Linked DNA regions of Homo sapiens: region 2 is linked to region 1. The links come from fine-mapping of genetic effects on gene expression. A gene starts in region 1. The other region holds a variant in brackets. All regions are shown on one strand. Distances are from middle to middle.

Region 1 (8,334 bases):
GGAGCACAGGGCATTTTTGGGGCAGTAAATATATCTCTCTGTCTGATACTACAGTGGTAGATCCATAACGCTATGCACTTGTCAGAACCCATAGAACTGCACAACACAATGGGTGAACCATCACGTAAGCCATGAACTTTAGCTAATAATCATGTATCAGTATTGATTTATCAATTGTAAAAAGGTACCACGCCAATGCAAGATGTTAATAGTATGGGAAATTGTGTGTGTGGAGAGGGAGATCAGTATTCGGGAGTTCTGTACTTTCTATGCAATATTTCTGTAAAGCTAAAACTGCTCAGAACAATAAAGTTTATTAAATTTTTAAAAAAGTGGTTGGGTGCAGTGGCTCATGCCTATAATCCCAGCACTTTGGGAGGCCAAGGAAGGAGGACTGCTTGAGGCCAGGAGTTCAAGACCAGCCTGGGCAACACAGAGAGACCGTGTCTCTACAAAAAAAAAGAAAAAAGAAAAAATAGCCAAATGTGGTGGCATGTGCTTGTTGTCCTAGCTACTCGGGAGGCTGAGGCTGGAGGATTGCTTGAGCCAGGAGTTTAAGGCTGCAGTTAGCTATGATCATACCACTACCCTGCAGCCTGGGCCACAGAGCAAGATGCTGTCTCAAAAACAAACAAACAAACAAAAAACAGTTTTTAAAAGTAATTCAAAGCCCTTGCAAATTTTATGCTGATCCAATTTATATTTTCAAAAAGCCTACCTGCTATTATGTGAAAAATGGATTATGAAGGTCTGCATAGGAACCAGAATCCCAGTTAGAAGGTGAAAGCTATAATCAGACAAGAGGCACTGGTAAGAGGAGGGTGGCGGCAGTGAAGATGGAGAGAAGCGGAAAGAAAGTGGGATAGCTTCTGGGGATAGAGCCAACGAGAATCACTGATAAATTGGATGTGATGTGGAAGGTTAGAGAGATGGAGGGATCAAGATGAATAAAAACTCACAGAGGGCTTATTCTGGCAGGCACTGTTCTAAGAACCTTACAAGTATTACCATATTTAGCCCAAACAAACCTTGTGAGGTGGATGTTAGTGCACTAGCCAGCCTATAGATGACAAAACCAGTCCACAGAGAAGTGCCTTTTTGCCTGCCTATGATCATGCACTTGGGCAGGGACAGACCTGCGAGATGAACCCAGGAATTTTGGCTTCAGAGCCTGTGCTATGTTCTTCCCACCTTGATACTGAGGATTTTGGCTTGGGAAATTGATGGATGCTAGTGACAATTACCAAAATGTGGAAGTTTAGGGAAGAAACATTTTATTAGGGGGGGAATCAAGAGTACTGTTGGCAGTGTTCCTTTTTTTTGCCTCACTGAATAACAGCCAGGCAATGTTACTTTTGAAATTTAAGTTAAACCCCAGCTGAAGATGTTAAGCAAGTGGTAGGAAAAAAGAGTCAGAATTCAAGGAGAAGTCCAGGCCTGGAGAAGTGAATTTGGGAGTTGTTGGCATGTGCGTGGTATATTTGCTTGTGGACTGGCTTCAGTTGCTTGTCGTGATTGTAAGTATCTTAGTGATGGAATATTACTTTGAAAGGATGCAAGCCTGATGGACAGTTTGAAAGAAAAAAAGGCCAGAGAGAGGGCAGCATGGTCTACATGGAAGTCAGCTAGAATTTTCGTATGAAGTTAAAACCCTTGGTTTGAATCTATATGTTGCTGTGGGCCAGGGAAAGAGGGGAAGAGAGCCGGGGAGCGGGAATCAAGGGACCAATGGCTTCTGACTGCACAGCCTTGGACGTGCACTTTTTGGACATGTAACTTCTCTGAGTCTCAGTGTTTGCATCCGTAAGTGGGGACGTACAATAAAATCATCAAGTTTTGGCCTCAACATTCTGTCTAAGTTGAAAGTGCTAAATGCAGAGAGAATTTATTATCATCATGTCCATTACTGTCAGGTTACATTACTAGTAACATTACATTACTAGTTAAAATTGTTACATTACTAGTTAAAATTGTTAAATTATATTCTGCGTCATGTTACATTACTAGTTAAAATTGTTACATTACTAGTTAAAATTGTTAAATTATATTCTGCTCATGATAATACAGTTCGCATGACCAAAAGTGTACAGCATAAAGAATTCCCAAGGCATTTTATAGATTGCAGGACAGCTCTTTGCTCAGACCTCTGAGCAGCCCTGTCAGATTATTGGGTTATTGTTTCCATTTTGTGGACATGGAAACTGAGACTCAGTAAGGTAAAAGGACTTGCAGTTGACAGAGCCGCTTAGTACAGAAGCTGGGGCTTATTGCTCTGACCCTAAGCTCTTTATTTTGCCATTGTTTGAACAGAATAGGAGATGACCCTGTTGTGTCATTTTAAGGACACACTTTCTTTTTGCCTTCTGAATATGTTTACTTGCCACAACAAACATGTATTACTTTTATAACTAAAATTTTGAAATTAAAAATTTTTGTAATTTTAATTTTTTAAATTAAATTTAAATTTGTAATTGTAATTTTAATTTTTAAAAATTAAATTAGAATTTTTAAAATTAAAATTTTTTAAATTAATTTTTCAAAATTTATAATTTTAATTTTGTAATTAAAATTTTTGTAATTAAAAATTTACTTTTGGAAATAAAATTTTGTAATTAAAAAATAGGAGAATTAGAAGGAAATACAGGTTATTGATTATGAAACTTTAGCAAGCATCAGAATCACTTGTTGAACAGATTTCTCAGTTCCGTGGGCTGGAAGGGCCAAAAAGGTGAGCAGGCTTCTGCTTGGTTAGCTGTTGGCAGCATGCTTCCTCCTCTATTGCCTCATTCTCTCAGTAACACTGTGCAGTAGAAGTTTCTAATTTCATCTGGCAGACAATTAATTTCATCTAATTTTCATCGTAGCAAACTAAGGCTGTGAATGACCAAGATCACACAGGAAGCTCTTGGTTGAGCTTCAAGTGGTGCTTGAACTTCCTAGTTCTAACCAGGGCGGGGCTCTCTCACCTGCGTCTTCCTCCCCGTCTCTTCTGGCTTGCAGTGAGCTGGACTATGGAGTGTTGGGCAGGGTGGAGACTCTTTCTGCAGGATGTCCTGAAGGGCAGAGGGGTGATAAAATTTCCACCTTGAAGCACAAACCACCCCGTATTAGGAAAAATCAGGGCCAAGTCTCAACTACACTTTGGAATAAATTTACCTTCTGAGAGTGAGAAAGAACAGATCTTCGGAAAATAGAGGGAGAGGCGGGAACTGGATTCAGGTGCCGATGACAAGAGAGAGCTTAGACTTAGTGGAGGAGGGGGGCTGTGGGGCCCTCCCAGGCCTCAGGATCCAAGAAGGGCAAGGCCAGCCCCCATAGCCCTGGGGTGCTGAATTGCTCCTCAGCCTCTCTGCCAGAGCAAGATGGAAGTGGGGCCTGAGTCTGTCCTGGCCCCACCGCACCCAGGCCATTGTGAGAGAGATTGTGGGTGTGAGCTGAGCAGGCGACACTGACAGAGGCGCTCACTCTCTGCAATTTAGAAATTCCTTCACTGCACTCCAGACTCACTCCAGACTCAGCCCTACAATGTCCCCTGTGCCTGCTGACAAAGGCAGCTTTATCCCCAGAGTGCTCCCTCCTCCCGTGCTTCCCTTGGGACCGTGGGCCTGTGTTCTCCAGCAGCAGCGGCTAGATCTTTGCAGCCTTGCATGGAATTTCAAGGGCTTCCTACAGGTTGCACCTACACCCTCATTAAAGCCCCCAGGAAGCCCTGAAACATTTGGTGCTGAGCGTTGGGAAACATTCCATTCTTTAGAAGAGAGGTCCATACAAAAACCTCAGCCTAGCATGTACACAGGGCTCACAGAGACTGAGCTTAGGAGAGATGTGTGGGATGCTCTTTGCGGGGCAGATGGATTAAATGCCACCTTATGATTAGATTCTCCAAGGGGCTACGTGGGGGAAAGGCACTCTGGTCTCATGACACTAATGCCAACAGGACACACACAAAAGTGCCCCATTCTTTTATGCTGCAGTTTTCAACATGCTCTGTATACGTTAGGTCATGGGCTCTCGCACCTGAGCACGCACCAAAATCACCTGGAGGCTTTGTGAAAACAGAGTGCCAGAGGTGCTGCTTCAGGAGGTCTAGGCCAGGGCCTGAGAACTTGCATTTCTAGCAGATGCTGCTGATGCAGCTGGCTTGAGGACCACTGAGTTACATAAGCTTCTGAGAGCCAGTCTGTTGTTTTTGGGAAAGGGTGGCACAGACAAGAAATGAAATGCTATGGAAAAAGCCTGGGCTTTGGAGACAGGTGGATTTTGACTTGCTAACTTGCTAACTGTGTGACCTTGGGGAAATTCCACGGCACGTAGTAGGTGTTTAATGAACGTTTGTGCAGTGGCTTTCTTTGTCTGCAAAGCAGGTGATATATTTACCAGATTGATGGCAGGATTGTATGTGATGACTTTTTTCCTCTTTTTATTAAATTTTTATATAATTTGAGAGGAGTTCTTGCTATGGTTTGCCCGGGCTTGTCTTGAATCCCCCGGCTCAAGTGATCCTTCTGCCTCAGCCTCCTGAGTAGCTGGGATTATAGGCACGTGCCACAGCTTCCAGCATGTGATGAGGTTTATAGAAAGCTCCTAGCAGCGTGCCAGGCACATTGCAGGCACCGAGTCATGTCTGCTACCTTTCGGCTCTCCTAGTCATTTCTGTGTTGTCCAAAGAAGGCAGGGGCAACTGGGCTGGACCAAGGAACCTCACTGTGGTTCTGTGGCTCTGCACTGGGTTTGCCTCCTGGGTGTTGCCGGCCAGCCCAGCAGATGGTGGACCTTGTTCTGAGGCTGAGCTTCTCAGCACTGGCAGCCCCCCTTTTTGGATCAAGCCTTTTCACGTGGAGCAGTCAGATGGCTCAGATCAGGAGTCTTCGAGCAAATCCATGCCAGGTGGGACACATTTGTCCTGAGTCACCTGTCCAGAGCAGGTGGTGAATATTGTGTCCTACTCACGGCATCTCAACTATCGGAGCCTGGGATCTGACTCAAAGGCCGGCCTCCGTCTGAGAACTGAGCGTCCATTTCTCAATCCTTGCCGGCTCTGACCCAGGCCTGGGCCACAGGCTGTCCGGGAATAAGTGGTGCTGCAATCCCTGCTGGGCAGATGGAGAGAGGAGCAAGGGAGATGGCAGCCCCGGGGGACTGTGCATAGGGAGGTAGGTGGGCACCAGGTGAGTGAATGTCTGTCAGGCAGCTGCTCTGTCCAGGTGGCCGTTACCGGAGGGAGGAAGCTGGCCTCTCTGACCTGAATGGGGAGGGTCTTGGTTGCTAGGACGTAACTTCATATTTGGAAGTGGTGCTGGGGTCAGGGGCAGGAGCAGAAGCCAGGATTGTGTTGGTAGGAATCTCTGTGTCACCATGTCACAGTTAGGTACAGGAGGAAGCAGCTTCAGAAGGCCAGAGCGGGCAGAGGGATATCGCTTGACCTGGCTCTGCAGCACGGGGAGAATTTGGTCCTGAGATTTCTGACTTTTCAGCCTCGTCTCATCCTTGGCAATGGGGTGTGGAAGGAGGTGGAGGAAAGGAAGGCAGCAGGAGAGAGAAAGGCCACGGGGCACCTGATGGGGGCTTCTCTGCTGCCTGGCCAGACTCCTTTTCTCCAAAGTGGGCACAGCGGGTGGGCATCTCTGCAGATTGACCATGGGAAAAGTGTTCACTCTGCTTGCTTTTTGATAAGGGTCCCGTGACTAATTCCTGCATTGGTAGGTCCCAGGATTGGTGTTTTTTTGTTTTTGTTTTTTGTTTGTTTGTTTTTTTCTTTTTTGGTCCATAGCAAGTTTGCTTTCTGTAGCTGGAGAATGAGGTAACAGCATAAGAATAGAGGTTCCCTGTGGAATACAGGGAAGCATCTTCTCCTCCTGCCCTTATCAGGTGAAATCCTCCCACTTCAGGCTGAGCCATACAAAGACGACCCCTTTGTCCCAGGAGGCCAGTTCAAGCTCCCACTGGGTTCCTGGAAGCAGCCTGGGAGCTGCCGTCTCTGTGGCTCCCCTTCCTATTTCTCCAGTTTCCCCCGGAAGGAGAAGACCGTTCAGCCTTTTTCCTCCTCTGTTCTCCTTCTTTACCCTGAAGTTAAGTGATGGTCAACATTTACGAGCACAGTAGAAGGCACCTCCCCTGCTGCAGATATGACGTGGGCATGAGCCGTCAGGTGGGTCAGACCCTTGAAGCCTCTACTGCTCATTTATTCAATCCCCAGTGAGTCTTTTAAATAAAACTTAGTACCCCAACCATTTCCTGGCCACTCTTCAAGCCCCAGGCACCAAGCTAAAATATTCACATACCTCATTTAATTTAAACCTTACAACAACCTGGAGCTTAGGGAGTATATCCCCAAACCGAGAGGTGAGGAGGCTTGCACAGGACCACTCAGCTAGACGTTCCCAGGACCCAAACCCAGCTTGACTCCAAAATCCATGCTCTCACTGGCTTTGTGGCATGCCTCAATAAATACTTGAGTTTCCTCAACACAAAGATGGTCATATATCCATAGGGTTAAAAAATAATCTCTGTTGGATGCAATTGACTATAGAATTATTATTTTCTAATTGTTTGTATTCATGGAAACCTTTTTAGAATTAAAATCTATCATGAAAACTCATGTATAATCAGTTAAGGCAGAATTATTTTGGCAGAGGCAGACCAGGACCTTGAGACCTGCCCTTTTGTCAACCCCTCCCCCTTTCTGGTTCCCAGCAGTGGCCCAGGGGTATAGGAGTGAGAGGGAGGGAGGTACACTTTGAATTGAAATCTACTGGCCAGGTACAGTGGCTCACGCCTGTAATCCCAGCAATTTGAGAGGCCGAGGCGGGCGGATCACTTGAGGTCAGGAGTTCCTGACCAGGCTGGCCAACATGGTGAAACCCTGTTTCTACTAAAAATACAAAAATTAGCCAGGCGTGGAGGCACATGCCTGTAATCCCAGCTACTCAAGAGGCTGAGGCAGGAGAATTGCTTGAACCCGGGAGGCGGAGACTGCAGTGAGCCGAGATCATGCCACTGCACTCCAGCCTGGGTGACAGAGGGAGACTCCATCTCAAAAAAAAAAAATATATATATATATATATATATATATATATAAAATACATATTTTTTATTGTGCATTTGAATTGGTAATACATTTTCATATATAGGTTACGTTTTGCTATTAAAAAGCAATTCATTGTGAATAGCAATATGCTCATAAACACGGGGAGAAAATAGGCATGGGGCAAAATAAACAAATAGTTCCAAGAACTTGGAGTTGTGGTTAACTAGGAAGGCAGCTTGAAATCAGGAATTTACTTCAAGTTCTTCTTTTGAATTCCTGTTGAAATAAGGACGAATCTATGTCAGTCTTGTAAACTAGACAGTGTTGCTCAGTGTGTGCCAGAAACACTGAGAAGTCTCAGTGGATGTCTCAGGTGGATGTGAAGGACGTTGGGTGGAAGGGCGGAGCCCATCAGGAGGGAGGCGCTGTTCTTGCCACATCTGGAGATGCTGGAGGAGAGGTTTGCTTTGAGTGGGAGCAACTGGTAATGCTGGACAGTGACCCGATGCTGGGATCCCGCGTGGAGATCTCCATCGGTCTTGCCCCTGGCTGAGTCTTGGCATGTGCAGCTGGGATGGAAATGCTCCTCCAGTGGACAGTTACAGCAGCTAAGACATGGCTACCTTGCTCAGCCAATAGGAGGCGGTCACCTACAAACATCCCTTCCAAAGGTTCAAGGCTCCCCTGAGAACTTGGATGCTGGGGAATGGTGCACCTTCCCTGCTGCTCACTGCACCTCTCACCTGGCAAAGAAAAGCCACAGGAAATCTAAGCCCTTTCTGCAGTCTGGCATCGGCATATGAAAGATTCCAACGAGGAATTTCAGAACTCATCCCAGCTCCCGAATCTGAGTAAGCACAGACCTCTTGAGTAGGGCTGAGCAAATGCGGCAAAATCAATGCACATATGACAAGATTCAGTGGCCCAAAGAAGGGAGCTAAATGAGGAATCAAAGCAAATACCCCATATGGAATTGCTGTAAAAAATCAGAGAAAACCTGAAAGTAGTGGTTTTCAAGCATGACCCACTAGTGGATTGAAAATCAACTTAGCGGGTTGGAACCAACTTCCTTTTTCTAAAACAAAAAAAGAATAGCATACATCAGATTGCATCAGGTTCTTAGCAAAATCATATTTTATATTATCTTTTTCATACCAAAGATATTTTATATTATTTTTATTATACCGTAGTAAAGGTATTGTTTCATGAAAGTTTTTAGTTATATATATTTATTTATTTATGTATACATATAAATCTTATGTGTATGTGATCCATGTACTATGATGTAAAATGTAAATTATTATGGT
Region 2 (8,334 bases), 110 kb after region 1:
TCCTTCCATGCCTTTGGGTCTTAGGGGCTCCAAGTCTTAGGATCATAGGGACAGCTGCAAGTCAGGTGCTCTAGTGACGCTGAGCAAGTGAATTCTTTGACATAAGTTTACTCCTTAGTGCCAAGGTACAAACAGGTGCCCCAAGAACCTGTAGGTGTACTTTATTTGGTCTGCATGGTGATGAAAAAAATATTGAATTCTATACATGATAAAACCTGAATTGAAACCTGGACTTTAGGGAAGTGATCTGGTAGCGCTAGTTCTGTATGCCTACGTAGAGCTGACCCTTTGAGCAGATGTACTCGTTGGCGCTCTGCAGTTCCTATCACACATCTGCCCATTTGGCTCATTTTAGGGACCTGCCTGACTCCTATAGGCATCTGAGTTTGAGACCCCTGCTCTAGACTGGAATAGGAGTCTCTGACTGTGTCCTGGCTCCATGGGAGTCCCCGTCTAGGCTAGGAAGTACCGTAGTAATGTGTGTGTGTGTGTGTGTGTGTGTGTGTCACACTTGCACACTGTGCATTGGGGCAGGATGTTAGCTGGGCTTCCTTAGTGCTGCTGCTGTGACCCATGGAGAAGTAGAAGGGAAGAAGGAGCAACCAATTCCTGCAGAACAGCACTGACCCCTGTTTTGTTTTTTGTTGTTTTTTTTTTTTGTTTTGTTTTACCTGAAGTCCTACAACCTGACTTCATCTCACACTGTCCAATATGCTGATTTCTGGCTGACTTCATGGCACTCCCCCTGCCCGGCTGTGGACAGGGTGAATGAGAGAGGAAAATAATTATGCTTGCTGCTTTACATACATTTTTTTTTTCTTCTAAGCTTCCCATGACTCCTGAAGGTCCATTCTTTACAGATGAGGAAACTGAGGTTTGAGGAGGTGATGTAACTTGGAGGCTGGCCAAGCTGGGGTTTGAGATAACAAATCAGTCTGATGTCAGTCCGATGTTAAATTGTTCATCCTCTTGCAGTAAAATGTTTTTGAATGTATGTATTTCCTCTGCAGCAATTAGACGGCATCCATGTCACCATCTTACACAAGGAGGAAGGTGCTGGTCTTGGGTTCAGCTTGGCAGGAGGAGCAGATCTAGAAAACAAGGTGATTACGGTGAGTGGCCAAGTGAAGGGGCATGTCACAGCCAGAGGCAATGGTTCTGGGGGAGGGGGACACACTTGCCAGGAAGGGGCCCTGTGCTGGGGAAATGAAGAATGCATGACACTAGGCCACTGGGCAGGTCCTGTCCACTCAGCACATCCCAGAGCCTGGGGCTGCGTGGAGAGGGTAGCAGGCCTGGCCATGGGCATCTTTTCCTGTGGGTCCCACTATTCTGGCTCATCCAATCTGATCAGCATTGGCTGCTGCCTTCAGGTCACCTGTACCTGACCCAGATGGTTTCTGGTTCTGCCAGTTTTGTGGAGCCATGCTGCGGCTGCTCGCTCTCTAAAGCCGAGTGCATTGCTGTCATCCCAGGGCTGTGTTGTCTCAGGGTATCCTTTGTGTAGGCTGTGCTGGGCTCATTTGAATTTCCATGCCCAACTGAAAACAAATCCTCCAGTTCACAGCATCAGCCAGCATTCAACATACCACACCCCCTTGCAGTGGCAATCTGGCATGTTCCTGCGTGTCACTTCAGAGTCAATCATGTCAGTGGTGACTTCCTTGATTTCCTGATAAGTTTTCTATCACATAAAAAACACTTAAAACCTGTAAGTCTCTATTTCTCTCACTGAGTGCAGCTGAGTATTACAAAAAGATTCCTGACCGTGTAGTTTACTTTCTACTTGAAGAGGAGGAAAGAGAGCTTGCCTGTGGGAATGGCACTTTGGGTATTTTTCTCTGTCCATGAGTAGCAACTTCTGTCCACGTCATCTGGCCAGTCACCCTTGAGACACTGCAGACAACAGGAAACTAGGAGGAAGGCGCACATGTTGGCTGAGCACATGCACAAAAGCTTCTTTCTCCTTCTGTGTTTGAGCATTTCTCTTCCTTTCCAGATGATTAAAAGGGAACTAACGTAGAGCACCATCCACGGCCATGCTGAGCACTCACTGACCTGTTGTCTAAATTCATCCTACCCACACTTTGGATTGATAAATTGGTGGCATTTATGCTTCTTTTATAGAGGAGGAACCTGAGGTTCCTCCTTTAATTAACTTTAATCTTCGTTGGCCTAAAAATCCTCTAGCATTGAGGAACCTGAGGCTCAGAGGAGAGGTTCTGCTTCATGCTTGGATGTTACAGCCTGGGGATTCTAACCATGTAACAGAATTTTTCTAACACCAAAACAATTTAGAGAAGCAAAGAGCTTTGCTCCTATCATAAAAGCAAAACTACAGGTACCACATTTTAGTGGTTTCCATGCATGCTATCACTCAGTCCTCTTAATTATAATGGACCTCATTAAAGAGGCTGAGGCAGAGACATGAGATATTTTTGTGTGTTTGTTTATCCCACATATCTTGCAGAAAGGGGACCAAGAGGTGACTGGAGGTAAAGAGTCAGAATTTCTAGGGGAGGAGCTATAAAAATGTCTAGACTGCCTAGGAGAGTGTTTCTCAAAATGCATTCTGCCAAATGAGACCGAGAATTTCTCTATGAGAAAAGAATTCTTTGTTGAAACACTTTGGGAATCCCCATAATACCCTGCCAATACTTAGAAATCTGCCATGCAGATTTGCATTGTAGACCCTCTAAATGCCTTTTGCTTAGAAATCTGCTGCCATGCAAATTTGCATTGTAGACCCTCTAATGCCTTTTGCTTTTTAAAAGTAGACAATGTCAGAGCTTTTGTTTCACCCAGTATTCCTCAAGTTTCTTTGATTTTAAAAAATTTTTCTTGGCCGGGTGTGGTGGCTCATACCTGTAATTCCAACACTGTGCGGGGCCAAGGTGAGAGGATTGCTTGAGCCCAGGAGTTTGAGACCATCCTGGGCAACACTGGGAGACCCTGTCTCTATTTTTTAAAAAATAATAGGAAAAGCCTTTTTCTTACACAATACCCGTTAATATGCCATAGAATCAGTGCCTTGAGAAAACTACTCTGGGGACTTCTGACCTAGGGCAGGTGAAGCAAAAGATTTTATATGGAATCCCAACTAGAATCGTGGTGGTACACTATAGGACGTTGTGTTGGGATGGATTCTGAGGGCTTACCTGGTCATTACTGCTGGTGATCTCTGCTCTGGATGGAGAAGGAGGGAATGCTGGCCTCTGTGCCAGCAGCTCCAATCTAGGACACAATTATCTTTAATCTTTGTTGGCCTAAAAATCCTCTAGCATTGACTAACCGGTTCAATCCTCCTCCAGCAAGTATGTGGACTGGACTTGTGTGATTTCTGGTCCTGACTTCCTTT[G/A]GTTTGCTCAGGTTCACAGAGTGTTTCCAAATGGGCTGGCCTCCCAGGAAGGGACTATTCAGAAGGGCAATGAGGTTCTTTCCATCAACGGCAAGTCTCTCAAGGGGACCACGCACCATGATGCCTTGGCCATCCTCCGCCAAGCTCGAGAGCCCAGGCAAGCTGTGATTGTCACAAGGAAGCTGACTCCAGAGGCCATGCCCGACCTCAACTCCTCCACTGACTCTGCAGCCTCAGCCTCTGCAGCCAGTGATGTTTCTGTAGAATCTAGTAAGTTCTCCCAACTCAGTGGAAGCCACATGGGCCACATCCTCTTTGGCCATTTGGGGCCAGACCTGATGGGGCTACTCAGTAATTTGTGACCCCAAGAATGTGTGGCTGCCTAGTACACTGCCTGAGACGTGTTTACATGTGCCTGTGTGCAAACACGGGGGCTGTATCACCCCGGGCTCACTTGAAGCCCAGGGCATCTGTGGCCTGGGAGAGGAGAGGATCCCTAACAGAGACCTTGTGTTTTTCTCAGCAGCAGAGGCCACAGTCTGCACGGTGACACTGGAGAAGATGTCGGCAGGGCTGGGCTTCAGCCTGGAAGGAGGGAAGGGCTCCCTACACGGAGACAAGCCTCTCACCATTAACAGGATTTTCAAAGGTGTGGGGTGTGTCTGGTTCTTTGCGTGCTCTCCAGTTGTGGGCATGTGGCCAGGCCCCCAAAAGGCTTCTGGGCACTTTCTGGGCTATGTTGTTTCCCACAACTCCATGTCCTCTTCATAGGCATGCTGGTCCTTTTAGGGCTCAATTCTGCTTTTTCTACTTTTTCTCCTTTGCTCAGACATCCCCTCAATCCCCCCTCTGTTTTGATGGGTCTTCAAAAATACCTAAGTCCTGGGCTTGGTTCGGGTTGGCAGGGCCAGGACTCTAGAGTGGGGCAGTGAGGCACTGGCCTGTGGGGCAGAATTTTAAAGGGGTGCCAAAACACTCAGTAACTCAGATCGATACTATTTTAATGCAGCGTGTTTTTTAAAATTAATTTTAAAAAAACATGTTGGACAAAATATCCAAGTTTAAATCAAGACAGAGTCTGACTTTGTACTGCACACTTGGCCTCATTTGCCTTACCCTAGTCCTGGACACGTCAGCTCCTGCCTTTATTTAAAATGTTGATAGATATTTTGTTCATCAGGGATTGGAGTACAAACCAGTCTGATATGGGGGTCACTTGGATTTCCCTGTGAAAATCATGAATGACTGTGGCTACCATGTAAAACCATCCCTGATTCTTTGGTGTTCCTCAAATTGGAGGTCTCCAAGCCACAGAGCAAGGGGTTGTAGAGAGAGGAGTACTGGACAGGGAGGCAGGTGGGCCAGGTTCTAGTCCCAGCTCTGCCTGTAATGTGCTGAGTGACCCTTCCCTTCTGGGCCTGAGGCTCTTCATCCATAAAAGGAGGTAAAGAGGTACAGGTGTGTGTCTGAGGGCTCTTAGGACTGAGACCCAAAGGGACTCTTAGCTCTGTCCCTCACCCACTATGAGCTCCTGCTGCTGACTGGTTTCGTTAGAGGAAGTTCTGCTGCGGCTGCAGAAACCCAGAAGGTAGAGTGAGGCTTACATGGCATTCCCCCCAGAATCCATGTTAACCCCAATTCTGGGAAAGATATTTCTAATTTTTGAAGGTCAATTTGGAAGGAGCATTGGGTTCAATGTCAAGAGGACTAGATTCCAGTGTTAGTTCTGCCACATGACCTTGGTAGCATGATCTTGGACAAGTCACTTCACCACCATGGGCCCATTTGCTTAAATGTTTAGGATGAGACTGCCAGCTGCAGGGTGATGTTGGAAGGAGAGATGCAGATTCTGGAGCCAGAAAGTCTGGGTTCCAGCCCAGGGCCCACCACTAGCAGCTATGAAGCTCTGGGCCAGTTACTTGAGTTCTTGGTTTCCTCAGCTGTTAAAAGGAAACACAAATAATACACCCCTCATAGGATTACTGTCATAAATGCAAAACATTAGCACAACGCCTGTTAAAATAATTGCCCAATACACTTTAGCTATATTTTCATTACTATCATTAGTATTATCTTCTACTCTTATCAGGATTTGTGAAGATCACTGTGTCAAATGGATGGGAAATTTTATTTTAATATAAACAGTAAAATAGCATTGTTTTCACTTGCAGCTTTGAAATAGTGGGGGCCATATATGGTTGTTTCCTTTTTTATGTGGACACAGAGGACTTCGTGCCAGAGGCAAGATCCCTGTAAATATTGTTGCACAAAAATCTCACTAGCTCTCTTCCCATACCACCCAATGCTGATGTCCTCACCACATGCGGAGAACAAATGTGAAGGGAGTAGGATATTGGGTCAGTGTCCAAAGCAGGGTCTGGGCAGGACTCAGCTCCCCAGAGTCCTCTATGAACTATGGACGGTGCTCCAGGCAGGCTAAGGCGTGGAGCTGCCTGATATTTCCCTCCCCTGGGGACAGCAAGGGCTATCCCTTTCCAAAGGCCATGGAGAGCTGGAGCCTGGTGCCCTAACCTCTGAGTCACCATCTTAAGAGATGCCTCATTTTAGAACCACCAACAAGCAAGCTCCCAAGGGATGGTGCCCTGTTCTCTACCAAGCTATCCTGGCTCTTTGGAGATCAAGGAGAGGAGGCAACTTTCCTTGTTCCCCATCATCTGTGGAACCCATTACCTTCTCCCTCATTTCAGGAGCAGCCTCAGAACAAAGTGAGACAGTCCAGCCTGGAGATGAAATCTTACAGCTGGGTGGCACTGCCATGCAGGGCCTCACACGGTTTGAAGCCTGGAACATCATCAAGGCACTGCCTGATGGACCTGTCACGATTGTCATCAGGAGAAAAAGCCTCCAGTCCAAGGAAACCACAGCTGCTGGAGACTCCTAGGCAGGACATGCTGAAGCCAAAGCCAATAACACACAGCTAACACACAGCTCCCATAACCGCTGATTCTCAGGGTCTCTGCTGCCGCCCCACCCAGATGGGGGAAAGCACAGGTGGGCTTCCCAGTGGCTGCTGCCCAGGCCCAGACCTTCTAGGACGCCACCCAGCAAAAGGTTGTTCCTAAAATAAGGGCAGAGTCACACGGGGGCAGCTGATACAAATTGCAGACTGTGTAAAAAGAGAGCTTAATGATAATATTGTGGTGCCACAAATAAAATGGATTTATTAGAATTTCATATGACATTCATGCCTGGCTTCGCAAAATGTTTCAAGTACTGTAACTGTGTCATGATTCACCCCCAAACAGTGACATTTATTTTTCTCATGAATCTGCAATGTGGGCAGAGATTGGAATGGGCAGCTCATCTCTGTCCCACTTGGCATCAGCTGGCGTCATGCAAAGTCATGCAAAGGCTGGGACCACGTGAGATCATTCACTCATACATCTGGCCGTTGATGTTGGCTGGGAACTCACCTGGGGCTGCTGGCCTGAATGCTTATAGGTGGCCTCTCCTTGTGGCCTGGGCCTCCTCACAACATGGTGTCTGGATTCCCAGGATGAGCATCCCAGGATCGCAAGAGCCATGTAGAAGCTGCATCTTGTTTATACCTTTGCCTTGGAAGTTGCATGGCATCACCTCCACCATACTCCATCAGTTAGAGCTGACACAAACCTGCCTGGGTTTAAGGGGAGAGGAAATATTGCTGGGGTCATTTATGAAAAATACAGTTTGTCACATGAAACATTTGCAAAATTGTTTTTGGTTGGATTGGAGAAGTAATCCTAGGGAAGGGTGGTGGAGCCAGTAAACAGAGGAGTACAGGTGAAGCACCAAGCTCAAAGCGTGGACAGGTGTGCCGACAGAAGGAACCAGCGTGTATATGAGGGTATCAAATAAAATTGCTACTACTTACCTACCACATGCCAAGCACTGTGCTCAGGGCTAAACGGGCATTGCCTTTAGTGATCACAGCAGCTTCTACGGTGTATGGTTCTGTGCCAATGTATTGATAAGAGGGCACACACTGTGTACAGTAAATGGCTTATCCAGCTGGTGAGTGATGCGGCAGATTGAGTTTTCTTCTGTGATTCGGTGGAGACTATCAGCCCAAGATGCTTTAAGTGCACAACATTACAGGGAATGCCTGAGTGCCTGGCCAAAGGGATATTTGGTTTGGCCATCTCTGGATGCCTGATTGCCAAGCTCAGGACCAGGCAATGTGACTTTGCATCAGCAACAACCAGCATCCCTTGACCAGGCCTGGGCCAGAGTATTGGTCTCCTCTCAGCCCCTGATCCTGTGAAGTAAGGATGTGGGGGAAGACCTGGCAAGGACACAGATGAAACACAAACAATAGTAATTCTCAGGCCATCATCAGTGGAGCCATGTTAATGTAATCTGATGGCTTCTCCAGGGTCCACAGGAAGTGAAGAATCTGTTTCCCAGCAGTGGACTCAAAACCCATCTGGGCTCCTAACCTTCCTGTAAACCCCTTTAGTGGCTTCATTAGAGCAGGCGTTCAGCTCACTGTTCTATTCATCTCAAGGAATAATGGGCTTAGAGCAGTTTCTGTCCTGCTGGTTAACTTGTTTGGCCTATTCCATTCTGGATTTTGTCAAGCAGTAGACAAGCAATTAGACAAGAACTTGGAGGCACCATTTGTATCCACTTTTTAGACTTAATAGAAACATTGAAGATGAACATAATCTACCAACGAAAGACGTGATTCAATTCAACACTCCCTTCCCATGACCCAGGCTGGGCAAGGAGGCCACGTGATGTGGAGGGCACATTCCTTGCCTGCACAAACTCACCATCTGTGCACGCAGTGGCCTTCCCTAAAATCAGGGAATTGTTTTAAGTCTTATCAAGCAGCCAAGGGATGAAAGAGAAGGTGGGTTTTCATCAAGACTGGAAGGTGGGGACAGGGATGAGCATGGAGCTGGCCGTGGGCCTGGGGTACCAAGAGACTCCTTGAGAGACCAGGCAAAGCAAGTGATTGGGACAGAGGTTAT

What was found.
Region 2: its variant is fine-mapped to the expression of IL16 in whole blood (TOPMed, PIP 0.94).

What each region holds. Positions count from the first base shown.
Region 1 is chr15:81,191,985-81,200,318 of GRCh38, forward strand. It overlaps IL16 (interleukin 16), which reads left to right and starts at 4,895. Exons shown (of 19, transcript NM_172217.5): 1 at 4,895-5,168.
Region 2 is chr15:81,302,539-81,310,872 of GRCh38, forward strand. It overlaps IL16 (interleukin 16), which reads left to right. Exons shown (of 19, transcript NM_172217.5): 16 at 1,011-1,112; 17 at 3,370-3,628; 18 at 3,882-4,007; 19 at 6,067-8,334. The coding sequence ends at 6,260. STARD5 (StAR related lipid transfer domain containing 5) reads right to left here. Exons shown (of 6, transcript NM_181900.3): 6 at 6,515-8,334. Among named protein-coding and RNA genes, the nearest start is that of STARD5, 17 kb to the right of the region's middle. RefSeq lists enhancers at 699-1,898, 1,283-1,813 and a silencer at 6,016-6,193. The variant G/A (reference allele first, on the strand shown) is at 3,359.